Regions from separate parts of the Homo sapiens genome. Here region 2 is linked to region 1. Evidence: fine-mapped expression QTL. A gene starts in region 1. The other region holds a variant in brackets. All regions are shown on one strand. Distances are from middle to middle.

Region 1 (15,782 bases):
GATGGTTGGAAAAAATTATAATGTCTGATAGAGTATATAATGTATGTAAATATAAAATATAAGACAACAATATATATATGGTGCAGGGGAAAGGGTGATAAGGTTTCTATATGCCAAATGAAGCAGTAAAACAATGAAATGATCCGAAGTAGACAACGAAAAGTAAGTATTTTATAATTCCTAGAGCAGCCACTAAAGAATTATACAAAAAGATATAGTCAAAACCATAGTATATAAAATAGAATACTAAATAATGTTCAAACAGTCAAATGAAAGCAGGAAAGGGGAAACATAAATATGGAGCAGCTAGCACTCTCACCTATTAGTGGTGGGACTGGAAAATGCTTTTGGAAAACTGTCAGTTTCTTAAAAAGTAAAGGATTTATCTAGTAGCTCCACTGTTATGCATTAACTTCAGAGAAATAAAAGCATATGTTCATACAATGACTCATACATGAATTTTCAGAGCAGCTGTAAATGTATTAGTCCTGAACTGGAAACAACTCAGATGTCCATCGACAAGTGACTAGATAAACTGTGGTATATCTGCACAGTGGGATACTCCACAGCAAAAAAAAGGAATTGATACATGCAATAACATGGAGAAATTTCAAAATAATGTAATTATGCTGAGTGAAAGAAGCCAGACAAAAAAGATTCCATTTATATAAAATACTAGATATGCAAACTAATCTATAGTGACCTAAAGCAGATTAGTAGTTTCTAGAGAAGGAAGAGGGTAAAGCAGAGAAAGAAGGGAGACAGGGATTATAAATGACCGTCAAAAATTTTTTAGGGTTATGGATGTTCTCTTGATTATGGTAATGGTTTCAAAAGTAAATATATGTCAAAATTCATCAAATTGTATATTCTCATTTAATGTGCAGGGTATTGCATGTCAATTATACCTCAATAAAGTTGTAAAATGTTTTTTTAGAGGGTGTAAACTGTGAACACTGCATATCAGTGTTCATCCTTTTGCTCTTACATGATGACAAGGAAGAACAGTAGACATCTCCTATGAATAAAATGGAACTATATAATTGTTTAAGCAAAAACATCACTTAATGATGGAAATATTTTTAAAAAAATTTTAGGCTGTGTGGTAGCTCGCACATATAATCCCGGCACTTTAGGAGGCAAAGGCAGGAGGATCACTTCAGCCCAGGAGTTCAAGACCAGAATGGGAAACATAGGGAGACCCCATCTCTACGAAAAATTTAAAAATTAGCTAGGTGTGTGGGCACATGTCTGTGGTCCCAGCTACTTAGGAGGATGAGATGGGAGGATCATTTGAGCCTGGAAAGTCGAGGCTGCAGTGAGCTGTAACTGCACCACTGCATTCCAGCCTGGGTGACAGAGCAAGACCCTGCCTCAAAAAAAAAATATTTTTTTAATTTTTAAATACTTTATTTGTCTTAAACGTATAAGCAATCCTCACTTGGCACAGTCTGATATGAATTTCAGTTACCACAGTTTATTAACCGTGAGAAATAGCATAAAAGTTTGCTACTAGCTTTTCAGTTCACAAATCATTACATAAATAACATATGAATCAAAATTGACCAATTTGCAATTTTACTTCTTTCAAAGTCTATGGGTGATTGGTCACTGTGCATCTGTTATTCAGTTCACACACAGGCTGCAAAGCATGGAGGTTTGTTATTAATATTTCTGTGCCCTTGAGATAAACCCACATGGAATTTTACAGATTAAAAGAGGAAATTGGCCAAAAGAATGAAAGTGCACTAAAGAAGAGTGATAATACTAGAAGTGAAACTTGCATTAAACATAAATGGAGCAAATGAAAAAAAAGCTGCCTGTGGGAACATGCTGATTGTGGCAACAATGACACTGCCGCCATTTGAGACATTCTAGATATGCAGACTGAGGAAATCAGTGAAGGTGAACTTATAGACATAAATGAGGAAAAGTGATTGTGATGAAAGGCTGATGATGTGTCAGAGGAAGTGACACTGGCAAAAAAAACACATTAAAGGAACTCTCAGAGATATTTCACAACATTGAAAACGTAATGGATAAAATGTTGGAAACTAATATTTAAATTTCTCCAGAACGCAGAACTCATAAGCAACTGTGTTCTCCAAGTAAATATCTTCACAGGTTCCTCAATTAATGTGGGCAAAATTAAAAGTACAACTTGCTTCTTCCCTTTGGAAAACCCTCTCTCAGAGTATATTACCAACATTCAACTTCTTATACAAGGCATAGATCTGGGAATCATTATTCATTCTTCTCTTTTTGTCATTCACGTATCCACTCAATTTCCATGGCCTGTTGATTCTATTTCTCAGACGTTGTTCAAATCTCTCCACTATCTTTATTCTACTTGGCAACTCTGTGGCCCAGGCTTCCAACAACTCTCTCCCGGACAAGTGTAATCACAACAGTTACCTAACTTGGCTCCCACTCTTGTTCTCAGTTGCAACCCATTCTCCAAGCAGAAAACAAAATGCAATAGCTGTTACCTTATTCTCATCTTCACACCTCTACTCAAGTACACAAGGCTCTTCCTCATCTAGTTTCTGTCTACTTCATCTCTTGTCAATGGTCCCTACCCCAATTCTCCGCTCTAGTCATTCTGAACTTTGTTCAATTCCTGGCCTGTGTCCTCTGCCTTTAATAGGCTGCCTGGCACACTGTAGGAATTCACTAAATATGCAGACTGAATGAATGAACGAGTCCGTGGAGGGCAGTTATTCTTTGGAGTAACTTAAGAGAGAAGGAATACAGTACAACGAAGTATTCTTATTTAGGTTTATAGTGTCTTCACCTGAGCCCGCGGGGGAACCCCCCCCCCACCCCCGGGGAACCCCCCCCACCCCCGCCGCCCCCCGCCTGCAAGTTGTTACCAGTAAATAAAAGGGATCCTATTTTAGCAAGCCACACAGCATTAGAGGGCAAATAATAGTTTGGTGGCAGGAGAGCGATGAGACGGGAAAGTGTGGGGCAAAGCTTACAGTCATTGGTCCAGATTCTAACTGGCCTGTTAGCCAAAAAGTAAGGTTTTCTTTACCTCCGTGTTGACTCTGCTCTCCGAAGGCGAAGAGGGTCCTCCAAACCCGTTTGGCGTGCGGACAAAAACCCCAGCATATCGTGTCCTCACACCGGCTGGAGCACTGGACGTCGCCATGACAGAGCTCAGGGGCGGGACTGGAACAGCAGAGTCTCCCATTGGTCAGTCGGTGATATATCCGGCCAATGGTGAGCGCCGTTACTAGAAGGGCTCCAGGATGGAGGCCGACCTGACTTCTCCGCCTCGGTGGGCTGGGTCGGCGGCTGGAGCATTACCCCTACTGCGGGTCCCGCTGCTGGCAGCGCTGGAAACTGGGTGGACGGCATGGGTTGGTCTCAGGATTTGTTCCGCGCCTTGTGGAGATCGCTGTCAAGGGAAGTGAAGGAGCACGTGGGCACGGACCAATTCGGGAACAAATACTACTACATCCCGCAGTACAAGAACTGGAGAGGTGAGGTGGCGGCGTGGGCAGCGATTGCGTGGTCAGTGATTGCGAGGTCAGTAAAGGAGGGAAAAGTGAGAGCCCCTAGTCAACTAACGCATCATGCGACACTTAGGGTGTCACCGGAGAGAATTTCCCGAGTTCGTTCTCCCCTGTCGACCCCTTCACTCTGGCATCGGAGCCCTACCCGGCCCGGCTCTGGGCGCCTTGGCCCGGCCTCGTGCGTCCGCGGTCCCTACTACCCAGCGCCTTCCCCCGGCGTGCCCCGGGCTGCTTGCGCTGTTAAGGCGCACCACCACTTTCCTCCCAGCCACGCCTGTAGAGGAGCCTCAGTTTTAGCCCTGGACTGGCGACGGAGGCAGGGAAAAGTCCACGGAAATCTTTCACCAAAGGGGCTAGAAGGGCCAGGGGAGGGGTTTTTCGTACGCTGTTCCCCGCCTTGTGACCCAGAGCTGAGTGGTGTAATTGAAGAGGAGTATCTTCAGCGCCTCGGCTGTCTTCTTTCTTGGTGTTTACCCTTTTCGGTGGCACCCTGGCTCCGGCGCTGGCCCCATGCGCCTTCCTTACTACCAAGACTTGTCAGAAGTAGGTCCATATCCCCACAAGGCTCGCTGATTCCTTTCTCGGGAGTTGACATTCCAAGACCCCGTTGAGCTCAATTTAAGAAACGTGGCAATAATCATGGTGTTACTGTGTAGGATTCGTGCCAAGTAGTTGAGCGGGTTGTTTGGGGAGTAAGGAGGCGTTGCTGTCCATTGAAATCACACTGTGTAGCCGCCGTCGTAACCTCTTCTGTGTTGTTCCATCGCCGCATGCAGAAAATGTCAGGTTTTGGGCGAAGAGGCGTGGGTTAGAATCTCAGCTTTGACACCTGATAGCTCGGGAATCACGGAAAAAGTACTTGTCCTCTCCAAGTCTCAACATCCTCACTTGAAAGTTAGAGATAATATAAGATCAGCAATGTTGAGAAGCACTAAGACCTTTCCAAGATTATGTGCCATTCATTTCCCACACATATAAAATGTATTCTGTGATTTATCACTCAATTAATTTATTTTTGCCTGGCCTTTTTCTGTAACTTATTTTAATATTTAGACTTGTTTCCCTAATGAGCTCCTCTGTCAGGCAGGGAATATGTCTCACAAAAAAAGAAAAAAGCCTGCAAAGAACATAGCATGGTGTTAAGTATTTCTTGACAGGTTGCAAGCAGAGAGATGTTTCTTTTCCATAAGTTGTCAGTAAAATTAAAAATATGCAAACTGTCAGACTGAGTTTTTTTAAATTGAAATATAATTTACATACAGTAACATTCACCCTTTATGGTGTACAGTTTTATTGTTTTTGACAAATGAGTAGAGTAACCTCACTGGATTCAAGTAATAGAATAATTCCATCACCATCAGAATTTCCTCCAACTCCTTAGTAGTTCATTCCCACACCCTTTGGCAACTACTGATGTGTTTTATGGGCCTATAGTTTTGTCTTTTCTAGAATATCATATAAATGGAATTATACAGGATTTAGACTTTTGAGTCTGGCTTGCTTCACATAGCATAATGTAGCTGAGATTCATCCATGTGTCAGTAGTTGTTCCTTTTTATTGCTCAGTAGTATTCCATTGTATGGGTTTGCCAGTTTATCTGTTCACAAGCTGAAGGACATTAGGATGTTTCCAGTTTCTGTGATTGTGACAAAAGCTCTACAAACATTCCCATACAGGATTTGTGTGAACGTAAGTTTTCATATCTCTTGGGTAAATATCTAGTAGTGGGATTACTAAGTTGTGTGATCAATGTGTGTTTAACTTTATGAGAAACTACCAAACTGTTTTTCAAAGTGGCTGTACCATTTTGTATTCCTGCCAGCAATGCATTAAAATTCTAGTTGTTTCCACACCCTCACCAGCACTTAGTATTATCTGATTTTTGGGTGTGTTTTTATTTTTATTTTAGCCATTTTGATAGGTATATAGTGGTATCTCATTGTGATTTTAAGTTTCATTTTCCTAATGCCTGAGGATGTTGACAGTCTTTTCATGTGCTTATTTACTATCTACAGATCTTCGGTGAAGTATTGTTCAAACCTTTTGCCCATTAAAAAATCCATTTATGGCTGGGTCCGGTGGCTCATGCCTGTAATCCCACCACTTTGGGAGGCCGAGGTGGGTGGATCACCTGAGATCAGGAGTTCCAGACCAGCCTGGCCAACATGGTGAAACCCCATCTCTACTAAAAATACAAAAATTAGCTGGGCATGGTGGCACGCGCCTGTAATCCCAGCTAGTCGGGAGGCTAAGGCAGGAAAATCACTTGAACCTGGGAGGCGGATGTTGCAGTGAGCCGAGATCACACCACTGCACTCCAGCCTGGGTGACAGAGTGAGACTCCACCTCAAAAAAAAAAAAAAAAAACAAGCCCAAAAAACAACAAACAAATATATTTATACCAGTTTTTGTATCATTCATTTATATAGAGATACAATACCATTAAAGTTTCAAATTAACAGTCATGTCTATTCTACAATAACATGAATATTTTATTTTTACATATTCTCACTAATTTGTATATTTTCTTACATAATTGTAATTGCATTTTGAGAGTTTTATTGAAGTATAATTGACAAAAAAAATTGCCCATGCTTAAAATGTATAATTTGGTAAGTTTTGACATATGTATATATCTGTGAAACCATCAACACAGTCAAGAAAATTAACATATTCAATATCCACAACAATTTGTTGTGCTCCTTTCTAGTCTTGCCTTATGCTTCTGCTTCCATGGATAGGCACTCATCTGATTTCTGACACTATACATTAGTTTGTATTTTTTATAATTTTTATTTAGTTATTTTTATTTGTTTATTTTGAGATGGAGTCTCGCCCTGTCGCCCAGGCTGGAGTGCAGTGGCGCTATCTCGGCTTACTGCAACCTCTGCCTCCCAGGTTCAAGTGATTCTCCTGCGTCAGCCTCCCAAGTAACTGAGATGTGTGCCACCCTGCCCAGTTAACTTTTTGTATCTTTAGTAGAGACGGGGTTTCACCATGTTGGTTAGGCTGGTCTTGAACTCCTGGCTTTGTGATCTGCCTGCCTCGGCCTCCCAAAGTGCTGGGATTACAGATGTGAGACAGTGCGCCTGGCTAGAATTTTATTTAAGTGGAAGCATACAGCACATATTCTGCTTTTTTTTTTTTTTGTTTTTTAGGTTCTTCACTCAGCATAATTATTTTGAGATTCATCCATGTTTTTGTGTTTATCAGTAGTTTATTTCTTTTTAATGCTGAGTAATATTCCATTGTATGTATATACCATAATTTGTTTATCCATTCACCTGTTCATAGATATTTGGGTTGTTTCTAGTTAGGGGTTATTACAAATAAATTATGAACATTCATGTGTAAGTCTTTGTATGGACTTATGTTTTTATTTCTCTTGATGTAATATTTAGAAATGGAATGGCTGAGTCAACTTGTTAGGTGTATGTTTAACTTCTTAAGAAACTGCCTAAGTGGTGGTACCGTTTTACCTTCCCACCAGGAGTGTATGAGATTTCCAGTTGTCCTATATCCTTATCAACACTTGGTATGGTCAGTCTTTTTAATTTTAGCTCTTCTAGTAGGTGTGTTGTGGTATCTCATTTTTTTTCTTTAGTTTTCTGTTTGCTATTAGTTGGTTTTTTTAGATTCTATTTTTAAAATACAGTAAAATTAACTTTTAAAATTGGTGTATAGTTCTATAAATTTGAACACATGTGATTCATGTAACCAACACCAAAATCAGGATACAGAACAGTTCCGTCACCCTGAATAACTCCCTCATGCTACCTTTTTGTAGTTACAATCTCTCCTCATCCCTAACCTCAGCAACCACTGATTTGTTCTCTGCCATTATACTTTTTTCCATTTGAGACTGTCCCACATGTATACTTATACCATATGTAACCTTTTGAACCTGGCTTCTTCTATTCAGCATAATGCCTTTGAGATTCATTACGTATATCAGTAGTTTGCTCCTTTTTACTGCTGATTAGTATTCCATGTTAATGGATGTACCAGTTTGTTCATTTACTCATTAAAGGGCATTTGAGTTTAGTTACTTGCAGTTTTTGGTGATTATGAATACAGCTGCAAGAAACATTCACATATGGGTTTCGTGTGAACATAAGTTTTCATTTTCCATGAGTACATACCTAAGAGTGTGAGTGCTTGGCCATAGCAGCTCCAGCTTACTCTGTAAAACGGAAATAACAGTACCTACTTAGCCTCACAAAGTATTTTTGCTACTCAAGAGAGACAAATTGGATAACGTAGCATTTAAGAGAATGGGATTTAATGTCGAAATCAGTTTGACTTAATTCACAGAGACCTTTTACTTGGTCATTTTTAAAAATTTATCACTGATTTGTAGTTTTCAGCATAGAGATCATGATATGTTTTGTTAAATTTATTATAAAGTATATTATATTGTATTGTTATTATAAATGATGCTTTAAAAAACGTAATTTCTAATTCTTTGTTACTATTATATTGAAGTACAATAGATTTTTCCATGTTGAGCATGTATCTTGCAACCTGTTTTACTCACCTACTAGTTCTTGAATGAAGCCTTTTGCAGATCCTTTGGACATTCTCTGTAGGTAATTATATCAACTGTGGATAGAGACAGTTTTGTTTTTATCCTTTCTAACTTATTTGCATTCTATTTCCTTCTCTTGCCTGGCTGCACTAGATGAGCCTCCAGTATAATGTTGAATAAGAGTGGTGAGCATAGGTATCTTTTTCTTGTTCCATATCTTAGAAGAAAAACATTTAATCTTTCATTTTTTTTTTCCCCAAAGGTGGAATTTCGCTCTCGTTGCCCAGGCTGGAGTGCAATAGCGTGATCTTGGCTCATTGCAACCTCCACCTCCTGGTTTCAAGCGATTTTTCTGCCTCAGCCTCCTGAGTATCTGGGATTACAGGCATGTGCCACTATGCCTGGCTAATTTTTTATTTTTAGGAGAGATGGGGTTCGCCATGTTGGACAGGCTGGTCTCGAACTCCTGACCTCAGATGATCTGCCCACCTTGGCCTCCTAAAGTGCTGGGATTACAGGCATGAGCCACCACGCCTGGCCACTACTCTTTCATTGTTAAGTGTGGTGTTAGCTATAATTTTTTAGATACCTTTTATTAAATTAACAAAGTTCCCTGTCTGTACCTCGTTTGCTGAGCGCTTTCTCTTATGAATCGATGTTGAATTTTGTCAATTTTGTCACATGCTTGCTTGCTGGGTTTTTTTTTTTTTTTTGGTTCTGTTGGAATGATCATGTGGTGAATTTATACTGATTGACTTTTAAAAATTAATAGACTTTATTTTTTAGAGCAATTTTAGGTTTACAGAAAAATTGAATGGAAACTACTCAGATATTCCTGCTCCCCCAATGCAGTTTCTCCCATTGTTAATATCTTGCATTAATGTGTCCTCACTTCCTCCCTTCCTGCTACCAAACCCCTAGCAACCACTGATCTTTTTACTGTCTCTGTAGTTTTGCCTTTTCCAGAATGTCATGTAGTTGCTGTCATATAGTATGTGATCTTTTCAGACTGGCTTCTTTCACTTAGTAATATGCACTTAAGTTTCCTCCATGTTTTTTTGTGGCATAATAGCTCCTTTCTTTTTATTTATTTATTTATTTTTGAGACAGAGTCTCACTCTGTCGCCCAGGCTGGAGTGCAGTAGTGCGATATTGGCTCGGTGCAACCTCTGCCTCTCAGGTTCAAGTGATTCTCCTGCCTCAGCCTCTCGAGTAGCTGGGATTACAGGTGCCCACCACCATGCCCAGCTAATTTTTGTAATTTTAGTAAGAGACAGGGTTTCGCCATATTGGCCAGGATGGTTTTGAACTCCTTACCTCAGATGATCTGCCTGCCTCAGCGTCCCAAAGTGCTGGGATTACAGGAGTAAACCAGATGCCTGGCCATCTACTTTCTTTTTATTGCTAAATAATATTCTGTTGTATGGTTAGAACCACTGTTTATTCGTTTGCATATTGAAGGACATCTTGGTTGCTTCCAAGTTTTGGCGATTATGAATAAAGCTGCTATAAATATTCCTGTGCAGTTTTTTGAGTGGACATAAGCTTTTAACTCATTTGGCATTGATTGATTGTTGAATGTCTTGAATATTGCATTTGTCAGGTAAACTCCACTTGGTCATGATGCATTATCCTTTTTATATATTATTGGATTGATGTGCTTTCATTTTATTGAAGAATTTTGTTTTCTGTTCTTCAGGATCTTAATTTCTTCCTTTTAATGTGTTTTCTAGGTTTGTTTTTAGGTTAATGCTGGCCTTATAAAGTGAGTTAAATTTTGTTTCCTTCTTTTGAATTTTCTGGAAGCGTTTGTGAAGAATTTGTATTACTTATTTCTTACATGTTGGATATAAATTGCCTGTGAAGCCATCTGGTCCTGGAGTTTTCCTTGTTGGAAGGCTGGAATTAAAAATTCAAAGATAATAAATTTTTAACCTACAAATTTAATATCTTTGGCAGGTATAAGACTACTCAGGCTATCTATTTTGTCTTAGGTGAGTTTTGGTAGTTTTTATCTTTTGAGTAGTTTGCCCTTTTTATCTAGTATGTTGAATTTACAGTCATAAAGTTGTAATACCTCTTCATTATCTTTTTAATGTTTGTACAATTTGTAGTGATATCCTCTCTTTCCTGAATTGATAATTTGTGGCTATTGTTTTCTTGGCCTATCTGATGAGTGGTTTGTTAATTTTATTGATCATTTTAGAGAATTAGCTTTGAGTTTCACTGATTTTTCTCTGTAAGTTTTTTCCATTGGTTTCAGAACTTATCGCTTTCTCTTATATCGTCATCGTTTTCTTCTGCTTTCAATTGGTTTTATATGTTCTTCTAGTTTCTTAAGGTGGCCACTGAGATCATAATTTGATCTGTTTATTTTTTAATATACATTTTTAATGTTAAAATTTCTTGTAGGCACTGTTTTGGCCACATTTCACAAATTTTTATCTTAAAATTTTCATGTAACGAATATATTTTCTTATTTATTTTTTCCTATATGACCTATGTATTTATTTAGAAGTATGTTCTTTACAAATATTTGGAGATTTTCTAGATGGAGATTTTCATTGACTTCTAGTTTAATTCTATTATATTCAGAGAACATATTTTATATGATTTCAGTTATTTTAAATGTATTGTAAATTGTTTTATGGCCTAGAGTATGGTGCAATTTGGTAAATCTTCTGTTTGTGCTTGAGAAAAATGTATTATCTATTTTGCTATTTGGGGTTGAATGTTCTGTAAATGTCAGTTAGCCCAAGCTGGTTGATAGAGTTGTTCAAGCTTTGTATATTCACACTGATTTTTTTTGTACTTATTCTATCAATTATTGAAAAAAGTATGTTACAGTCTCTGAATACAAGTTTACATTTGTCTTTTACTCTTTCCAGTTCTATCAGTTTTTGCTTCATGTATTTTCAATACCTATTGTTAGGTCCTTACACATTTATAATTGAAAGATAATAATACAAATTACCCAAAATAAAACACAGAGAGAAAAAAGACCAGAAAAAAAAGAGCAATTAGCAAGCTGTGGGATACCCCCAAGTGGCCTAATATATGTAATTGGATACCATGAGGGGTAAAGGTCATTTTGCAGGTCAAAAATATTTGAAGAAATAATGGCCAAAAATATTCCAAATTTGATGAAAACTATAAACCCACAGACCCCAAATCATCAACAAATTCCAAAAACAAAAAGTGTAGAAAACCACACCAAGGCATATTATTATCAAATTGCTCAAAGCCATTGATAAAGAGAAAATCTTTATAGAGCTAGAGAAAAAGATACATTACTTACAGAGGAAGAAAGACGAAAATGAGTTCAGGGTTTTTTTTAAAACAAACAATATAAGCTGGAAGACAGTGGAACAATATCTTTAAAGTACCAAAAGAGAAAGTCTGCCAACCTATAATTTTGTACACAACAAAAATACCTTGTTAAAACAAAGGCAAATGAAGGTTTTTTCAGACATACTGTACCTGAAAGAATTCATTACACAGAGACCATAATTCCCTTTCCTCTTCCCTCTACTGGATATCTTATTCCCTGGATTCTGGGCCTTTCACCACAGTTTTGTAGCATATATGCTTCAGTAGCCTCCTGAGAAGAGGTTCAAGGCGGATAAAGTTTTTGAGTCTTTGAATGTCTGAAAAGATTTTTATTCTGTCCTCATTTGGTTGATGTATTTGTTGGGTGTAGTTTCTACTGCAGTCATAGTGAGTAAATGTCTAGAGAAAAGCAAGCAGTAAATTCTATACGAGCTTAAAAGGAGTAGCCTATGAATTGAGGAAGAGTATATGCATAATGTAGGCTTTGGTAAATGTTTTTAATGTAACCTAATGCTATGGTTTACTGTATTTATGAATATATATTTTAAAATGCATGATTACATTGAATAACAGTGTTTTGGCTTTAATAGTAAAGCTTTTTTTCAAATTTAGTCGGTATAAAATTATTTGAGATAGTCACACATACTTTGTATGTGCCCTATTGACAACAACCAAAGGAATTTCTCCTTTCCATGCAAATGAGGAACACATAGACACAGATGTAAATGTTCTAAATCATTATTTCTAGTGATATAAGTTAGGATTGTTTTACTGGAAGATTGTGGTGCTTTTTGAGTGTTGGCTGTGTATTTTAGACAAAGTAGCTGGTAACTAGGACTAGTTCCAGCTTTACAGGTCACCATGATACCCATATCCATGTCTCTGGTCCCAAGTCATTAGCTGTAAGATAGCCAAAGACCTATGATGTGGCTAGGTGTGAGAATTCTGCCCCATATAGGCATTCTGTATAGGTTGGTAACAGACCAAACATGGTCAAATTTTTTTCTGTTGAAATTTGAACTCATAGATATATAGAGAGAGGAAAATATGAGAATAATTAGGGATCAGTAGATGTCCATTTCTAAGAAGTTAGGGTGGCAAGCATGTTGAAAGGTTCCTATTAGAGCACAATAGGTATTGTTGTGTCCTAAATCACATTCCAGTTGTCTCTATTTTGCAAATGTTGAGTTTTTCGTCTTTCTTCCTGTATCTTTACAGTATTCCCTGGTTACCTGAGATAACTTGAGCGTAACTGTTCTTTGAAATCTGAGACTAGCTAACATATATACTATGTACTAGATTTTAGAAAATTTTAGGTATCTGAAAATACAACTTTTTCCTTTCATGTGTTAATTTTGTCTCTTAGAAATTCTTCCTGTTAAATATCAAGGAACTCATGACCTCAAGTGATCTGCCCGCCTCAGCCTCCCAAAGTGCTAGGATTACAGGCATGAGCCACCGTGCTCTGCTGTCCTTTTTTTTTTTTTTAAATAGTAGCCATCCTAACAAGTATAAGGTGATAGCTTATTGTGGTTTTAACTTGATTTCCTTGTTGGCTAGTGATATTGAGAACCTTTTCATATACTTGTTGGCTATTTTGTATGTTTTCTTTGGAGAAATGCCTGTTAGTTCCTTTGCCCATTTTAAAATCAATTTATTTGGTTTTTTGCTATTAAGTCATAGAAGTCACTGATACATTTTGGTTTTTAATCATTTATGAGATATGGTTTGCAAATATTTGTCCTATTCCATAGGTTGCCTTTGTATCCTTTGCTTTGCAGAAGTATTTTGGTTTGACGTAATCAGACTTATCTATTTTTGCTTTTGTTGTTTTGTGCTTTTGGTGTCATATCCAAGAAATCATTGCCAAAGCCAATGTCAAGAAGCTTTTTCCCTGTTTTCTTCTAAGAGTTTTGTAGTTTAAGGACTTACATTGAAATCTTTAATTCATATTGAGTTGATTTTTATATACAGTGTGAGATAAGCGTCCAATTTCATTCCTCTGCATGTGGATATCTAGTTTTCCCAATACCATTTATTTGAAGAGATTATCTTTTCTTCACTGTGTGTTCTTGGCATAATTGTCAAAACTCACTTGTCCTCATGTGTGGGTTTATTACTAGGTTCTGTCTTCTGTTCCAATAGTTTATATGTCTGGTTTTATACTGGTACCATACTGTTTTGATTACTGTAGCTTTTAAACGTATTTTGAAATCAGACAGTGTGATGCGTCCAGATTTGTTCTTCCTGCTTAAAATTGTTTTGGCTACTCAGTGTCTTCTTGTAATTCCATATGAATTTTAGGATTGTTGTTTCTATTTCTGGAAAAAAAAAGTCATTGGAGTTTTGTTAGAGATTGTGTTGAATCTGTAGATTGCTTTGGGTAGTATGAGCACTTTAACAATATTAATTCTTCCAGTCCATGAACATATCAGATGTCATTGCATTTATTCCTGTCTGCTTGAAAGCATTTCTTTCATCCATGTTTTATAGTTTTCAGTGAATAAGTCTTTCACTTCCTTAGTTTGTTGCTAAATATTTTACTTTATTGATGTTATTGTAAGTAGGTTGTTTTCTTAATTTCCTTTTCAGATAATTTGTTGATAGTACCTAGACATGCAATAGATTTTTGTATGTTGACTTTGTTTTTTTTTTTTTGAGATAGAGTCTCGCTCTGTCACTCAGGCTGGAGGGCACTGGCGCGATCTCAGCTCACTGCAACCTCTGCCCCTGGGGCCTAAGTGATCCTCCTAAGTACTGGGACTACAGATATGTGCCACCATGCCCAGCTAATTTTTGTATTTTTTGTAGAGATGAGATTTCACCATGTTGCCCAGGCTGGTTTTAAACTCCTGGGCTCAAGTGATCCACCTGCCTCGGCCTCCCAAAGTGTTGGGATTATAGGCATGAGCCACCATGCCTGGCCTCTATGTTGACTTTGTATCCTGCAACTTTGCTGAATTCATTCATTAGTCTGAACAGCTTTTTTTGTGTGTGGAATCTTTGGGGATTTCTATATGTAAGGTCATCATCTGTGGCTTCTTCCGCTCTAATTTGGATGCCATTTATTTGTTTTTCTTGCCTAGTTGCTCTTGCTAGAACTTCTGTTTTTGAATAGGAGTGGTGAGAGTAGGCATCCTTGTCTCATTCCTAACCTTAGAGGAAAAGCTGTCTGTTTTTCACTCTTGAATATAATATTAACTGTGGATTTGTCATATATGGCCTTCATTATGTTGAGGTGCATCCCTTCTATACCTGACACTAAGAATTTTTATCTTAAAAAGGACTGAATTTTGTTAAATGCGTTTCCTGCATCTATTGAGATGGTCATACAGTTTTTGTCCTTCATTTTGTTGATTTGGTATATCACATTGATTTGTATATGTTATCTCAATTTTTTGAAGTGTTACTTATACGTTTATAAAAGTTGTGAGCCAAGAAAAATTTGTGCTGAGGTTTTTATGAAAACATTTACTGCCAAACTATATTTTCTATACTTTCTGTATTTCTGTGTGAGTATATTTAGACACACGTATATTTGGATTATCAGTGTGCCAAACATTATTTATAATATCATCTCCTGAATTTTATATTTTATTTTTTTTAGTTAAAAAGAAAATACTGCCTTTTGAATATGAAGTTCTCAAACACTTTTGAGAAACCAGATCAAAAGAGGTATTAACCAAACTTTGAGAAACCGGATCAAAAGAGGTATTAACCAATTTTAAAGTTGATAATTTAAAATTGAGGTTTGCTAATCAGAAATAGAATTTTGCTTATAACTGAAGGGTGTTTTATACCTTTTGTGCTTCCTTTTTAAGAATATTAGTTGGATTTTACCTTTTGTTCTAACTTGAGAATCACTGTTTTATTTATTTTTAATTATTGAATTAAAATATAGTAGAGAGAATGAGAAAGCAAACCTCCACATACCTGAAGCTTACTTTTTACAGTTATACTTGTGGTTAAATATAATTTTCTTCCTAACCCCCAGTTATCTTTCCTATTTTATTTTGAAGCAGGTAACAAACATCTTGTCAATTTACCTATAAACATTTCAGTATGTATCTTTTAAACACAAGCACTCCTGTTTTTAAATGTAACAATAACACCATCATCATATATAGAAATAAATCCCTTAATATCATCAGATATCCAGCCATTCACATTTTCTTGGTTATCGTATAATGTTATAATGTTCTTGTTTATTGGCTGATCTGTTTACTTTTTTTTTTTTTAACAGTTTATGTCTCTATAGATTCTCCCTTTATCTTTTTAAAAGCTGTTCTTCTGATTCCTGATTACCCTCCTTAGATGTCTTTTGCAGCATAGCCCTCAATTTACTTGAAATTAGCTGTCTGCACCCAGACAGACCCCAGTGAATATTACAGGCCAGTAGCTC
Region 2 (16,656 bases), 200 kb before region 1:
ATTTCATGTATCACAGTAAAAGTTATTTATCTATACAGCTAAGTTCTTTTTCCATATTAGCTCACATTGCCTTTGATTATAAGTGAGTGTCCATGTTTGCTACCTGGCTCTTTTCAGCCATAAAAACATATCCTGGGGAGGCAGAGCAAGACAGCCAAACAGAAGCCATCGTCCTCCCAACAGGAATACCAAATTTAATAACTATCTACACAAAAAAGCACCTTCATAAGAACAAAAAAGCACCTTCATAAGAACCAAAAATCAGATGAATGGTCACAGTGCTGGTGCTGAAGAGGGTAGAAAAGACAACCGTGAATCACCAACACCACCCCTCCACCATTCCCCAGTAGCAGCCATGTGGTGCAGATAGAGAATCTGTGCACTTTAGGGAGGGAGAACATAGCGATTGTGAAACTTTGCATTGGAACTCAGTGCTGTCAATATTAGGCAGAACTCAGCCAATGTCCACGGCAGAAGCATTCAGACCAGCCCTAGCTAAAGGGGAACCACACATGCCAACAGTCAGAACATGAGTTTCAGCAAGCCTCGCCACTGCAGGTTAAAGTGCTCTAGGGAACTAAATAAACTTGAAGTCTAGGCCACAAGGACTACAACTCCCAGGCAAGTCTGAGTGCTGTGCTAGGTGGGCTCAGAGCCAATGGACTTGGGTAGCATGCAACCTAGTAAGACACTAGCCAGGGCAGTTAGGCAGTTATGCACCACCCCTCTCACAAACTCAGGCACTGTAGCTTACAACTCTTAAAGATGATTTTGTCTTGCAATTGGATACCAGCTCAGCCATATTACAATAGGGCACCGGGCAGAGTTGAGAGGCCCCCCATTCCAGGCCTTAGCTCCCAGATGACATGCCTAGACACACCCTGGGCCAGAAGAGAAACTGCTGCCTTGAAGGAAAAAACCCAGTCCTGGCAGGATTCATGACCTGCTGATGGAAGGCTGCGCCCTGAATAATCAGCAGAGTAACCAAGTAGTACAGGCCATGGGTCTTGGATGAGACTAACATGTGTTAGTGTCACGTGTGACCCATCATATTCCCAGCTGTGATGGCCATAGGGAGAAACTCCTTCTGATTAAGAAAAGGAGATGGAAAAATAAAGGGGACTTTGTCTTGCAGCTTAGGTACTAGCTTGGCCACCCTGGGGTAGAGCACCAAGCAGGGCTGTGGGGTCCCTGATGCCAGGCCTTGGCTCTTGTACAGCATTTCTGGACCTACCCTGGGCCAAAGGGGATGTCATTGCCCTGAAGGATGAGTCCCAGGCCTGGCAGCAGTCACCACAAGCTAACTGAAGAGTCCTTGGGCCTTAAGTGAACATCGTTGGCACCCTGGCAGTACTCCCTGTGGATCTGTGGTGGTGGTGGACACAGGGAGAGATACCTCTGCTTATGGAAAGGGCAGGGAAGAGTGGGAAGAACTTTGTCTTGTGGTTTTGGTACTACCTTAGCCACAGCAGAATAGAGCAGTAGGTTGAGTTCTAAGGTTTCTGACTCCAGGCCCTGGCCTTTAGACAGCATCTCTGGACCTGCTCGGGACCCAGGGGAACTAGCTGCCCTGAAGGGAAGGACACAAGCCTGGCTGGCTTCACCCCTTCTGACTGTAGAGCCCTAGGGGCTTGAGCAAACATAGGTAGTAGCCAGGTAGTAGTCACAGTGGGCCTTGTGCAAGACCTAGGGTTGTGTTGCTTTCAGGTATGGCCCAGTGCAGTCCCAGTCATGGTGGCCACAGGGGTCCATGTGTTACCCCTTTCCCAGCTACAGGCAGCTCAGCACAGGGAAAGAGACTCCATTTGTTTGGGAGAAAGTAAGAGAAGAGAACAAGAGTCTCTACTTGGTAATCCAGAAAATTCTTCCAGATCTTATCCAAGGCCACCAAGGTAGTACCTCTATGAGTCTGCAAGAACCACAGGTGCAGTGACGAAAAACTTAGATCACAACACCCAAGACCTTTCAAATACCTGGAAAGCCTTCCCAAAAAGGATGAGTACAAACAAGCCCAGTCTGTGAAGACTACAATAAATACTTAACTCTTCAATGCTCAGACACTGACAAACATCCACAAACATCAAAACCATCCAGGAAAACATCCCCTCACCAAATAAACTGAATAATACACTGGCGACCAATCCCGGAGAGATAGAGACATGTGACCTTTAGACAGATAATTCAAAATAGCTCTTTGAGGAAACTCAAATAAATTCAAGATAACACAGAAGAGGAATTCATAATCCTATCAGATAAATCTAACAAAGAGATTGAAATAATTTAAAAGAATCAAGCAGAAATACTGGAGTTGAAAAATATAATTGAGACACTGAAGAATGCATCAGAGTCTCTTAATGGCAGAACTGATCAAACAGAAGAAAGAATTACTGACCTTGACAACAAGCTGTTTGAAAACACACATTCACAGGAGACAGAAGAAAAAAGAATAGAAATGAATAAAGCACACCTACAAGATATACACAATAGCGTCAACAGGACAAATTTAAGAGTTATTGGCCTTAAAGAAAAGGTAGAGAGAGGAGTAGAAAATTTAGTCAAAGGAATAATAACAGAGAACTTCCCAAACCTAGAGAAAGATATTAATATTCAAGTACAAAAATATTTGACCCAAAGAAGACTACCTCAAGGCATTTAATAATCAAATTCCCAAAGGTCAAGGATAAAGAAAGGACCCTAAAAGCAACAAAAGGAAAGAAACAAATAACATACAATGGAGCTCCAAAATATCTGGTAGCAGACTCCTCAGTAGAAACCTTACAAGCCAGGAGAGAGTGGCATGACATATTTAAAGTGATGAAGGAAAAAAAAAAAACTTTTATCCTAGAATAGTATATCCAGCAAAAATATCCTTCATGCATGAAGGAGATACAAAGACTTTCCTAGAAAAACAAAAGCCACAGGATTTCACCAATACCAGACCTGTCCTACAATAAATGCTAAAGGGAGTTCATCAATCTTCAAGAAAAGGATGGTAATGAGCAAACAATAAGTCACCTGAAGGCACAAAACTCACTAGTAATAGTAACTACACAGAAAAACACAGAATATTATAATGCTGTAATTGTGATATGTAAAGTACTCATATCTTAAATCGAAAGATGAAAAGATGAACCAATTAAAAATAATAACTACAATAACTTTTCAAGATATACACAGTATAATAAGATATAAATGGAAACAACAAAAAGTTAAAAAGTAGGGAAATGAAGTTAAGTGTAGAATTTTTATTAGTTTTCTTTTTGCTTGTTACTTTGTTTGCTTATGCAATCAGTGCTATCATCAGTTTAAAATAATGGGTTATGGCCGGGCGCAGTGGCTCACGCCAGTTATCCCAGCACTTTGGGAGGCCAAGGCAGGCGGATCACCTGAGGTCAGGAGTTCAAGACCATTCTGGCCAACATGATGAAATCCCATCTTTATTAAAAATACAAAAATTAAGGCTGGGCGCGGTGGCTCACGCCTGTAATCCCAGCACTTTGGGAGGCCGAGGAAGGTGGATCACAATGTCAGGAGTTCAAGACCAGCCTGGCCAATATGGTGAAAGCCTGTCTCTACTAAAACTACAAAAATTAGCCAGGCACAGTGACAGGTGCCTGTAATCCCAGCTACTCAGGAGGCTGAGGCAGGAGAATCGCTTGAACCCAGGCAGCAGAGGTTGCGCCACTGCACTCCAGCCTGGGCAACAGAGTGAGACTTTGTCTCAAAAAAAAAGCTGGTGATGGTGGCAGGCACCTACAATCCCAGCTACTCGGGAGGCTGAGGCAGGAGAATTGCTTGAATCTGGGAAGCAGAGGTTGCAGTGAGCCGAGATCACTCTATTGCACTCCAACCTGGGGGATAAGAGCAACTTTGTCTCAAAAAATAAATAAATAAATAAATAAATAAATAAATAAATAAATAAAACAAAAGGGTTATAAGATAGTATTTGGAAGCCCCGTGGTAGCCTCAAATCTAAAAGTATACAACAGATGCAAAAAAAAAAAAAAAAAAAGAAAAAGAAAGAAATTAAGACATACCACCACAGAAAATAACTTTCACTAATAGGAAGTCAGGAAGGAAGAGAGACTACAAAACAATTAGAAAACAAATAACAAACTGACAGAAGAAAGTCCTTACTTATCAGTAATAACATTGACTGTAAAAGGAATAAACGTTCCAATTAAAAGACATAGAGTGGCTGAATAAATAAAAAAATAATGTCCAACGATCTGTTGCCCACAAGAAATACATTTTGCCTGTAATGACACACACAGACTGAAAATAAAGCGATGAGAAAAGATAATCCATGCAAAGGGAAACCAAAAAAGGGCAGGAGTAGCTATACTTATATCAGACAAAATAGATTTCAAGACAGAATCTATAAGAAGATACAAAGAAGGTCATTATAGAATGATAAAGGAGTCAATTCAGCAAAAGGATATCACAATTGTAAATATATGTGCACTCAACACTGGAGCACCCAGATGTATGAAGCAAATATTATGAGAGCTAAAGAAAGAGATAGACCCCAATACAATATTAGCTGGAGACTTCAACACTCCACTTTCAGGATTGGACAGATCTTCCAAACAGAAAATCAGTGAAGAAATGTTGAACTTAATCTGCCCTACAGAACAAAGGGACCTAATAGATATTTACAGAATATTTCATCCAACGGCTGCAAAATACACATTCTTTTCTTCATCACATGGATCGTTCTCAAGAATAGACCATATGTTATATTACAAAACGCATCTTAAAACATTCGGGAAAAATAACATCAAGCATCTTCTCTGACCACAAACTCACCATTCACCCGGCCCCTCCCATCCCTCCTGGTCCTGCACTCTTAAAGCCGAAACACTGGGCTCACCTTTCACATTTCCCTCAAGCTTAGGCCAGGGTGTTTCTTTCCTTTTCTCATCTGGAATTACCTGTTGGGCACACTCTTCTCCCTCATTTTCTGTCTGGCAAACATCCCCTTATTGTTCATGAGGCAGCTGATATTATCTCCCCTTTAAAGTCTCTGCTTAAGTCCTACCACAGCCCAGATAGAGCTATTTCTCCTTTCTGTCCCTTCATTGTACAGGCTAAAAACTTCTTCCTTCCTTTCTCTCTCTTTCTTTCTTTCTCTTTCTGCAGAGCTAGCTGAGGTTTTATTTTGGACCATAAAAAAAAAAAAGCAATTGAATTGTTTTGTAGCTGGAGACATGGGCATGGGGGATCCCCAGGCAGGAAACTCCCCTGAAGGTGGGCTGAGGGCTAGGGCTGAGCCTCAGGTGGGTCTCCCATTCCCTGTGCTCCCCTGCACAGCCGCCTCCCTCGCGTGCTCTGGGGCAGCCGCAGGACGGACAGGCTGGGAGGGGCTGCCGCCTCCGCTGTTCACTTGAGCAGGACGTCAGAGGACTCGGACACCAGCTTCCCATCGTGGGTCTCAATCTTCTTCACAATCATGGCCCTGATGGAGCAGGTGCGGCTGAAAGCGCAGGAGCCCGCACCAGAGCCAAAACTGGAGCCCAGGCCGTAGCTGAGGCCGGGGCTTGTGAGGCCCCCATAGGTCGAGCTCAGACCACCTGCATAGCCGCTGGTGGTCTTCGTACGGATACTCATGTTCTGCATCCCAGACTCCAGCCGGCTCTCCTCGCCCTCCAGCAGCTGTAGGTGGCGATCTCGATGTCCAGGGCAGCTTGACGTTCATCAGCTCCTGGTACTCACGCAGCTGCCGCCCATGTCCTGCTTGGTCCACTGCAGGGCGGCCTCCAGCTCAGACAGCTTGGCGTTGGCATCCTTATCGGCCAGCTCCCCACGCTACTCGGCATCTCTGATGGCGGCCTCCAGGGAAGCCCTCTGGCCTTTGAGGCCCTCAGTCTCAGCCTGGAGCCGGCTTATGTTCCAGTTCATCTGGGAGATCTCAGTCTTTGTATGCCGCAGGTCATCCCCGTGCTTCCCAGACAGCGTCTGGAGCTCCTCATACTTGATCTGGTACATGCTCTCAACCTCAGCCCAGCTGCGGTTGGCGATCTCCTAGTACTGCGCCTTGACCTCAGCGATGACACTATGTCCAGGGAGCGGCTGTTGTCCATGGACAGCACCACAGACGTGTCCGAGATCTGGGACTGCAGCTCCTGGATCTCCTCTTCATACAGCTGCCTGAGGAAGTTGATCTCCTCAGTCAGCCCTTCCAGAAGAGACTCCAGCTCTACCTTGTCATGTAAGCTTTATCCACATCCTTCTTGATGAGGAAAAATTCATTCTCCATCCCTGTACGCTTATTGATCTCATCCTCATACTTGTTCTTGAAGTCCTCCAGCAGCCCCTGCATGTTGCCAAGTTCCGCCTCCAGCTTCAGCTTCTCCTGGCCCAGAGTTTCCAGCTGCCACCTAAAGTTGTTCATTGATGTAGCTCTCAAACATGTTGTCCATGTTGCTCCGAGCCATCTTCTCCTGCTGCAGGAGGCTCCAGTTGGTCTCCAGCATCTTGTTCTGCTGCTCCAGGAACTGTACCTTGTCTATGAAGGAGGCAAACTTGTTGTTGAGTGTCTTGATCTGGTTCTTCTCCTGGGTGTGGTCTCCTGGATGCTGGAGTCCATCTCCAGTTAAGGGAGTTCAGCAGGCTCTGGTTGACCGTGACAGCGGTGATGCCTTCCATGCCACTGGCCCCATTAAAGCCTCTGCCCAGGCCACCCCGGAAGCTGCTGCTGCCCACTTAAGAGAAGCTCGAGGAGTTGATGCGGGCACCGGGCCCACATGGTGGACACCTTGTAGGACTTCTGGGTCATCCTGATGGACATGGTGGAGGCAGGAGTGGAGGCAGGTGGCCTGAACCAGGCAGAGATTCCAGAAGGAGAGGACAAGCTGCTTCTTGGTATTTATTTATTTATATTTTAAATTCAAGGGAACATGTGCAGGTTTGTTATACAGGTAAACTTGTGCCACGGGGGTGTGTTGCATAGACTGTTTCATCACTCAGGTATTAAGCCTAGACCCTTTCATTATTTTTCCTGATCCTCTCCCTTCTCCCAGACTTCAGCCTTAGACCCCAGTGTCTGTTGTTCCCTCTATATGTCCATGTGTTCTCATCATTTAGCTTTCACTTATAAGTGAGAACATATGTTGTTTGCTAAGGATAATAGCCTCCAGCTCCATCCAGGTTCCTGCAAAGGGCATGATCTTGTTCTTTGTTATGGCTGCATGTATTCCATGG[C/T]GTTATCTGTGCCACACTTTCCTTATTCAGTCTACCATTGGTGGGCATTTAGGTTGATTCCATGTCTTTACTACTGTGAATAGTGCTGGAGTGAACATACGTGTGCACGTGTCTTTATGATAGAATGATTTATATTTCTTTCAGTATATACCCTGTAAAGGGATTGCTGGATCAAATGGTAGTTCTGTTTTTAGCTCTTTGAGGAATCACCACATAGCTTTCTACAGTGGTTGAACTAATTTACACTCCCACCAACAGTGTATAAGCATTCTTTTTCTCTGCAACCTTGCCAGCATCTGTTTTATTTCTTGACTTTTTAATAATAGTCATCTGACTGGTGTGACATGAAATCTCACTGTGATTTTGATTTATATTTCTCTAATGATCAGTGATGTTGAGCTTTTTTTCATGTGCTTTCTGGCTTCATGTATGTCTTCTTCTGAAAAGTGTTCATGTCCTTTGCCCACTTTTTAATGTTTTTTTTCTTATAAATTTGTTTAAGTTCCTTATAGATGCTAGATATCAGACCTTTGTTAGATGCATAGTTTCTAAAAATTTTCTCTCATTCTATAAACTGTCTATTTATGTTCTTGATAGTTTCTTTTGCTGTACAGAAGCTCTTTAATTATATCCCATTTGTCAATTTTTGCTTTTGTTGCAATTGCGTTTGGCATCTTTGTCACGAAATCTTTGCCTGTTCCCATGTCCAGAATGGTATTACGTAGGTTGTCCTTCAGGGTTTTTATAGTTTGGGGGTATACATTTTAGTCTTTAGTCCATCGTATGTGGTATAAGGAAAAGGTCCAGTTTCTACTGTCTCTACTAAAAATACAAAAATTAGCCAGGTATGATGGCAGGTGTCTATAATCCCAGCTACTCAGGAGGCTAAGGCAGGAGAATTGCTTGTACCCGGAAGGCAGAGGTTGCTGTGAGCTGAGATTGCGCCTCTGTACTCCAGCCTGGATGACAGAGCGATACTCCGTCTCAAAACAAACAAACAAGCAAACAAACAAAAACTATTTGTTTAACAGCAGAATATCTGACTTGACTTGTTTGCATGTTTGTTGCCCTCTATCCAAGCGAAAATCTCTGTGGGGATTGGTATTATTTGACTTCATTTTTATATTCTAGCACAGCAGTTGGCATATAGTAGGAGTTTAACAAATTGTTGAATGATTGACTAAACCACTAAAGAGTGAGCAGAGGAAGAGAATTTATAACAATAGCACATACTTATTCAGTGCTTCGTTCATTCATTCATTCATTCAACAACAGTTATTGAACTCCCGTAATATGCCAGCCATTGTTCTAGGCACTTGCAGTGAACAAAATAGACAAAATCATCTACCCTTGAAGAGATTACTTTCTCATGAGGAAGACAGTCAATAAATAACATTAATAGTAACTAAATGCATTGTATAGCATGTTAGAAGGTAATAAGTGCTGTATAGGAAAAAGAAAGATGAGGGTGCAGGCTGCAGTACTGAAAAAGTGAGATTTGAACAAAGGAGGGAATTGAAGGGTTTAGCCAAGCAGTTATTTTGGGAACAGTCCCTTAGGCAGAGAAAAATAAATGAAGAACCCTAAGATGGAAATGCACTTACAATGGTCCAGTGACCAGCAAGGAGGCCAGTGTGGCTGGAGCAGAGGGAACAAAGTGGGGATTGGTAGGCGGTGAGGACAGAGAAGCAATGACAGGGTTTTTACGCTCAGTGAAACCAGAAACCACTGTAGGGTTCGGAATAAAAGAGTTACATGATCTGATTTATATTAAGAGATGACTTTGGCTGCTATTTGGACAAGAAGTTTTAGGGAAGCAAAGGCAGAAACAGAGAGTCACACAGGAAGCTATTCCAGGAATCCCGGCATGAGATGATAAGGGCCCAGGATTGGTCAGATTCTGGTTATACTTTGAGAGGAAGCCAGCAGGATTTCTTGTTGGATTTGGCGTTGAGTGAGACAGAAAGGACCTGAGGATGACTCTGAGGTTTTTAGCCTGAATAACTGGAAGGAAAGCACTGCTCTAAAAGTTTTCCCTGTTTTAACTCATCTAATATCCCACAATAACTGGATAAAGAAGTATTGTTTCCATTTTCAGTTGGGACACTAAGAGACAGAGAAGCTGTCCAGGTTATAGCGCTAGCAAGAAACAGAGTCAGGATTTGACCAGGCAGGCTGGTTCCAGAGCCTGTGCTCCCAACCAGTGCACCACGCTTCCTCTCCATGACAGCATCTAGTAGGATGAAAGGCTTTTTATACAGGGATAATATAATAATATTATAATCTAGGCAAATATTATTATAATATAATCTAGACTATATTATAATCTAGGATAATATTATAATCTAGGAAAAATTATTCGGGTCTGAACAAGGAGGGTTGCCACAAGAATAAAAAGAAAGGCATACTTTCATGGGCAAGATAACCCAAAATGGGCAAAAGACACACTGACCAGAATTTGTGCAACTTTTAAGATAGAAGGCACAAGAGGGCTCCTGTCCGTAATCCCAGTGCTTTGAGAGGCTGAAGTGGGAGAATCGTTTGACGCTAGGCGTTCAAGACCAGCCTGGGCTACATAACAAGATCTCGTCTCTACAAAAGATAAAAAAAATTATCCAGGCATGTTGCCACTCCGGAAGCTGAGGCAGGAAGATTGCTTGAGCCCAGTAGTGTGAGGTTACTGTGAGCTATGAAGGTGCCACTGTGCTCCAGCTGGGGCAACAGAGGAAGACCCATCTCTTATAAAAAAAATAAAAGGAACACAGTAGCTCCGAGTTTACATCTCCACATTCAAATACTCAGATGCTTATATCATTCTTATTTAAGTTGTAAGGACTATGTACAGAGTGTCCTTTTGTGTGGCCTGGGCACTTAGAGATACTTACCTCATATCAAGCTTTCTCCCTTTAGTAACCAGAGTACATCCCAAACTAATTGAATCCTGTAGGTCCTAGAATACAAACAAGGTGCAGCAATGTTTTAATAATGCTGTAGTTTGAATATAGGCAAAAATGTTCATATTTAGATTTGAAGAGTGTTATAGTTTGTAACTTTGTTGAGTTATAGGTACATGTGCAGCCTGACCTGATACTGGCTGTCAATAAAAAGTATGAACATGCCCAGCCAGTGCCAGGAAAGTAAGAGCCCTTTGGCCCTCTCTCTGGGGCAGCCTGGTATAAAAGACATGTTTTGTGTCCTGTTATATTGTGGTTGTATCTGCTAGAAACATCTGGAGGAATTTCTATCTCCACCCCGTCCCCAATCATCATGTATCTTATGCTGCCTGAAACAAAGAGAACCATAACCCTTGCTCTCATTTAATCTAGGGACCTACCTTAAACTCCACACTCAAATCTGAGTCTATTTCTCTGTGCAAGGGGCCACTTTCTTAGTGAAAAAATAAAACGGCACTTACTTTCACCTACAGAACTAGTCAATACAAACCAGAACTGTGTGAATTAAAGATAGGCTTTAACTCTTCTAAAGAGAAAAATAAGTATTCCTGTCTATTTTAGGTAATACTTTGTGTGGCAGACTGTATTTTCCAAGTACAATATTTCTCCCATCCTACATGTACTTACGAGGTAGCTTTTACACTCTTCCCATTGAGGGACATGGTCTGTGTCCTCTCCTCTTGAAAATGGGTGGGCTTTTGTACAGGTGAAGTGATATTCCCTGACTTCTATGGCTAGGTTATAAAAGGCAATACTGCTTCCATTTTGTTCACTGGAATGCTTACTCCTGAAGCCTTTGGTCTGACTTCCCTGAGACTGCCATGCTGTGAGGAAGCTCAAAGTAGCCCAAGGGGAAAGACCACACAGAGAGGACTTGAGACTACACAGAGATCTCCAGCCATCCCCCACTGCCTCAACCTCCTGGTTCCTGGTTAAGCCACAGTCTGACTGCAATTGCGCCAGGGACCCCAAACAATAACCACTCGGCTTCTCAAATCATTGATCCTTCAAAGTGGTAAGAGATGTAGCCTTGATGTAGCTGTAAGTCATCAAATTTAGGGGTGATTTGTTAGTCAATAATAGACAAACTGTAACAGCTTGAGAAACAACAATACTATTTATATAAAGATAACAAAGGCTATACAAATAGTATACTGATGGAAAAATATATGCTAAATATATACACTGAATTATAATATATAGACTATATATTTTAAATTATATTAGTGTATCAATCATTTTGAATGAATCTATTATATATAATACATTATATATAACTTATGTGTATATATATTCATCCAGAAGTAATGATTTAATCATTTGCTGATGCCAGGCACAGTGCTGGCCCTAAATAAGAGTGTTCAATCACTTTTCCATTTAGACACTTGAAGAATTATATGTACTTCTGTGCAAAATAATGGCCCATCATGGTGATGGATTCTCAGTGGGTGAGGTTACATCAGGTGCTTACTCAAACGTCATCTTACCTTCTTTCTTACTAATAGAATCTAATTTTGTTGGAGATGACAATGTGCCCATCTAGAAAATTAGTTCACAGCTTCTCCTGCAGCCAGAAATGGCCATGAGGCAGTTTTGACCATTGAGATGTAAGTGGAAGTTGTTGTGTGGGACTCCTGGGAAAGTCCTTTAGAAGGAAACAGACCTAGACTCTATTGTATTTGGTACCCAAGAAGGCATACAAAGACATCTTCTTCCCTGGTGGTATATGGTATATGCAGATTTTCTCTGTATCCCTGCCCTTCCCCAGAGTACTTAGCTACATGGCATGATGCTTTGGAATGACAGACAATAACTACAGTCTATTACACCCAACTGCTTCCTACAAGAAGGAAATACTGGAAAATGCTGGTGACAGGGAGCCTCGGGCTCCATGGAAGGGATTCTTTTCCAGAGGCTCTCATAACCAGGCTGATCATGTTACTCCTCCATCAAACATCTTCAGTGGGTCCTGGTGAACATTATATTTTGTTTCATCAAAGGTAACTACTTAATTTTAGGATAATATATATTGCAAATCTGTAATACACTTTTCACTTGTCAACAGGTATGCCACTTTTGTTTTTATTAAAATTTGATGTAGGCCTGTCTTTTTAAACTGTACTGTAAATTTTTTAAGGGCAGGGACCACATCCAGTACATTTTAAAGTTTCTCATGACACTTAGATGCAGTAAGCACCCTCAATACTGACTGACTACCAGTGAAAATCATGTCAATTCTGTCATTTTGGTTCCTAACTTAAATAACATCTATACAGAACATTATAATACATACATTGCTTTTTAAAAACTGGACAATTTCAAACATACACAAACGTAGACAGAAGAGTATAATAAACTCTTATTAAGTGAACCCATTACCCAACTTTAACAATTATCAACACCCCCTTTTCTTTTTACTAGAGTATGTTAAAACGAAATCAGACAACCTATCATTTTACATATACATACTTCAGTGTATGTATCTCACATATAAGGACTTTAAAATATATACATCTGCAATACAGTAATAATATCTAATATTAATAGTTTGTCTTTTAAAATTTAGTTCATGTTCAGTTATATCTGATTGTTATAAGAATGTCCTTTTATGATTTGGTTTGTTCAAATCAGGATTCAAATGACATTTGGTTAGTATATCTTAAGTCTTTCATCTACAAAAGTTGCCTTCTCTGGTTTTCTTTTTTTTTTTTTAATGTCATTTATTTATTGAAGAAACCAGGTCATTTGTTCTATGGAATTTCCTACATTTTGGACTTGGCTGATGGTATCCTTTTTGTGTCTTTTAACTCTTATATATTGTATTTCCTGTAACTAGTAGTTTAGATACAGAGGATTTATTAGATTCAAGTTCAAAAATTTTTTTGCCACGAATACCTCAGAGTATTATAGTGTATTATGAGACAAAACATCTGGTTGTCCCACTTTGAATGATATTAAGATTGATCACTGGGTTCAGTCATATCAGCACAAGCCATCCCCATCAACCTTTCATCTAATTGTTTTAGCAACCAGTGATCATTAGCTAGTCCCATTTATTAGAGACAGTGGGGATGGCAAAATATTCTTTTTTGTTAATTCTTTCCACTTAAAAAACCTTGCCTACTAACATACCACCAATTTTGAAATTCTGTACAACCTAAACACATAACTCAAATTCAAATTCCTTCATAGAGTCTTCCCTGTCTGCTAAGTGGCAGAACTGTCACTCATCTGGCACCTATCATCTACTGCCCTGTCACATAATTTCATCTGCCAGTTGGTAAGCTCCAGGAGATCCCAATTATGTTCTAAGTATCTTTGTATCCCAAAGATGAACACAGCACGTATACAAGAAATATGTAAAATAACTTTGATTGGTGAGTATTCAAATTAAAAGTCACCAACCCATGCAAATACATGCAGCTAGATTCCAAAATGAAAAATATACACACGTATACATGCAATACCACAAATTTATTATAATACACAGGGAAAAACAAACTCAAACTTTGACAACATCCACAGAATGTTCCAGTCTTTAAAAAGTTAGCAGAAATAAAGGGTAATGGAAAGAATATAATCTCGTAATTTTATACTTAAGGCTGTAAATGGCAAAGTCCCATAGATATTTAAAAATCTATATTTGTATTTATTTATAATATAGATATAGGCCCTCAAGGATTCATAGAGATTTATGTAATAAACTAGATTTTGGAACTATTTATTTTGTTGTTGTTGTTGCTTGTTAGGTAAGCAAACCCAAACAAATTAAGTCCTGAAAAGTGGGATGAAATCCCAAAGGAACTCTATGTGACCACACAGAACTCTTTTAATAAATATGGCCCATACAAATTCCATATCCAGTGAAAATCATTTTGATCCACAATCATGTTGATGTTTCTATGGAGGATACTTCTAGCAGCTGTGATTTCTTTTGTAGCATTCTGGCTCTCCACTTCTATTCATATAATTGAGTATGTGTTTTATTACATGTTAGCTTATAGGCAAGTTAAACATTTTAAAGACTACAGGGAGGTTAGGAGAGGTTGTATGATGAAGGTCGGAAAGTATGCAAGAAATAAACTCTCCTGTTTCATCTCTTTTATTTTTGCCTCATTTTGGTCTCTATACTACTTGGGTTCTTTGGAAATGGTGTGATTTCTAACAGCACCTAGCATACCTTCTCATTTTAGCACAGGTTAGATATGAAGAGCCAAACCTGGAAAACAGTTAAGGAGTCCTGAGACCTTTCCAGTGGAATAAATTAGAGCAGCAGTTTCATTTAGCTGTGCTCTTTTGTCCTTCATTCTTTATTTTCTAAAAATATAAAATTATGGCCGGGCACAGTGGCTCACCCCTGTAATCCCAGAACTTTGGGAGGCCGAGGTGGGAGGATCACCTGAGGTCAGGAGCTCGAGACCAGCCTGGCCAACCCTGTCTCTACTAAAAATACAAAAATTAGCTGAGCATGGTGGCGGGCACCTGTAATCCCAGCTACTTGGGAGGCTGAGACAGGAGAATCACTTGAACCTGGGAGGCAGAGGTTGCAGTGAACCGAGATTGTGCCATTGCACTCTAGCCTGGGCAACAAGAGTAAAACTCTGCTTCAGAAAAAAAAATAATAAATTATATATATATATGTAATTACTCCCATTTATCAACCTTTACCTTCTCATGCTGTAATCAAGTAAAATCACAAAAGATCACTTAAAGGCAAATAACCTTATGAATCTGGTAAGTGTAAACATAAAAATACTTACTGTACACAGAGTACAATAAGTATCTCTGTGTGTTCAAAATTAACTGGGGCTTTAAGTACTAATTGTTTAAAGTCCTACAAACATAAACAGTGCTTCAAAATTGAGTATAAATAAAAGAAGAAAAAAAATAGGGAAAAATTCACAAATGTCCAAATATTATTTCATGGACAAAACTCTACTGACTAATAGTTTTGATTCTCTGACAAGAAAATGTAAAAATAACAGAAAGAAACTAGCAATTTTAAAGAAACAAAGTGTATGCCAAACGAATTTCAGTCCTTCATTACATGGTTTATAGGTCTGGAAACAGAAATCCAGGTTGTTAATTAATTCATAATTCCAGAAAATGTTTTATTGTTCAGTGTATCTATAACATTAATTATATAATATATTACTATTATGTAGTCTGTCTGTCTCTCTCTCAAAGTAGAACAGCCCTTGCTTACATAATCAATTTTCCCCTGGATATTCTCTGTGCCACAATTTGCCTCTAGTTGCTTCACAGCCACTCTAACTCATATCTGGAAACTGTGTACAATGGGTAATATTATTTATGATTTAAGGGTAGTACCTGTAGTGTGCTAATAATATGAACATTTAAGTATCTAACCTATATATTTCACCAAGATAATAATTTAAACCATGACAATGTAAGAAAGTGATGTGATACTATAACAGACAACAGGTTTTTCCCACTGAACTACACAATACTTTTTTCATTGACAAATTCACCTCTTTCCAGAGATATACAAAGTTAATTGTAAAACAGTAATAGCAAAGTATTCATTAACCCATTAAAACAAATCACCTTGTTTTGAAAATAATCAACTGAATGAAACTTGGTATCAAGTGTACTAACCCAAAGGATTGCTACTTTGAAACAGTTTGTACAACAAATGGGTTGTGAGGAAGTCTTATCAGCAAAACTGGTGATGGCTACTGAAAAGATCCATTGAAAATTATCATTAATGATTTTAAATGACAAGTTATCAAAAACTCACTCAATTTTCACCTGTGCTAGCTTGCTAAAATGGGAGTTAACTCTAGAGCAAATATAGTATCTTCTGAATACAGTCAATAAATGACAAAGCCAGGGCCTACAGGTGGTTTCCAGACTTTCCAGACCCAGCAGAAGGAATCTATTTTATCACATGGATCTCCGTCTGTGCTCAAAATACCTAATGATATTTTTCATCTTTATTGGACTTCTTTGAAGAGTACTGTATTGCTTCATATCTTTTTTTCACTGCAACAAAATGTTTTAAACAAAACCTTTGGATTAGGTTTAAAAGCAGCTAAAAAAACAAAAACAAAAACAAAAACAAATTCTGGCTGCTGTAGGCTCTAATTATCAGAAGACTGTTATCTGGAAGCTTCGGGCTCTCAAATATCAGACATCCCAATAACTTACCATAAAAATACAAGCTCTTAGTTTTGAAAAATATACAAAATGCACTGCATAGGTAAATATCTCTTGATTGTCAAGGAAGACAATGTATCAGTTTCGATCATAGACTTATGTTGGGCTTCAATTATCTTTGTTTTTGCAAGTTCCATTTTTCACAGTTTTGGGCAACCTCTGACCTTTGGTGTAAGCACGGTACCAAAAATGGAGAAAGAGCAGCAGAAACATGAAACTGTAACTCATAATGATGCACGCAAAGACTGGAAACTGATACTTGCAATCCTCCATGAAAAAGAACTGGCTTATGTGGATGGCGACAATAACAAACTGGACC

Alleles and levels. Positions count from the first base shown, and alleles are read on the strand shown. Sizes are in standard deviations (SD) of each study's normalised expression.
For the expression in aorta of the gene that starts at base 3,311 in region 1, allele T in region 2 goes with a lower level than allele C (small effect, 0.27 SD a copy in GTEx).

What was found. PIP is the estimated chance that this variant, and not a neighbour inherited with it, causes the effect.
Region 2: its variant is fine-mapped to the expression of NDUFAF2 in aorta (GTEx, PIP 0.95).

The regions. Positions count from the first base shown.
Region 1 is chr5:60,941,895-60,957,676 of GRCh38, forward strand. NDUFAF2 (NADH:ubiquinone oxidoreductase complex assembly factor 2) reads left to right here and starts at 3,311. Exons shown (of 4, transcript NM_174889.5): 1 at 3,311-3,488. The coding sequence starts at 3,362. ERCC8 (ERCC excision repair 8, CSA ubiquitin ligase complex subunit) reads right to left here and starts at 3,176. Exons shown (of 12, transcript NM_000082.4): 1 at 3,038-3,176. The coding sequence starts at 3,114. RefSeq lists an enhancer at 3,947-4,076.
Region 2 is chr5:60,738,179-60,754,834 of GRCh38, forward strand. ELOVL7 (ELOVL fatty acid elongase 7) reads right to left here. Exons shown (of 9, transcript NM_024930.3): 9 at 13,613-16,655. The coding sequence ends at 16,446. It also overlaps the pseudogene KRT8P31. Among named protein-coding and RNA genes, the nearest start is that of DEPDC1B, 46 kb to the left of the region's middle. The variant C/T (reference allele first, on the strand shown) is at 7,204.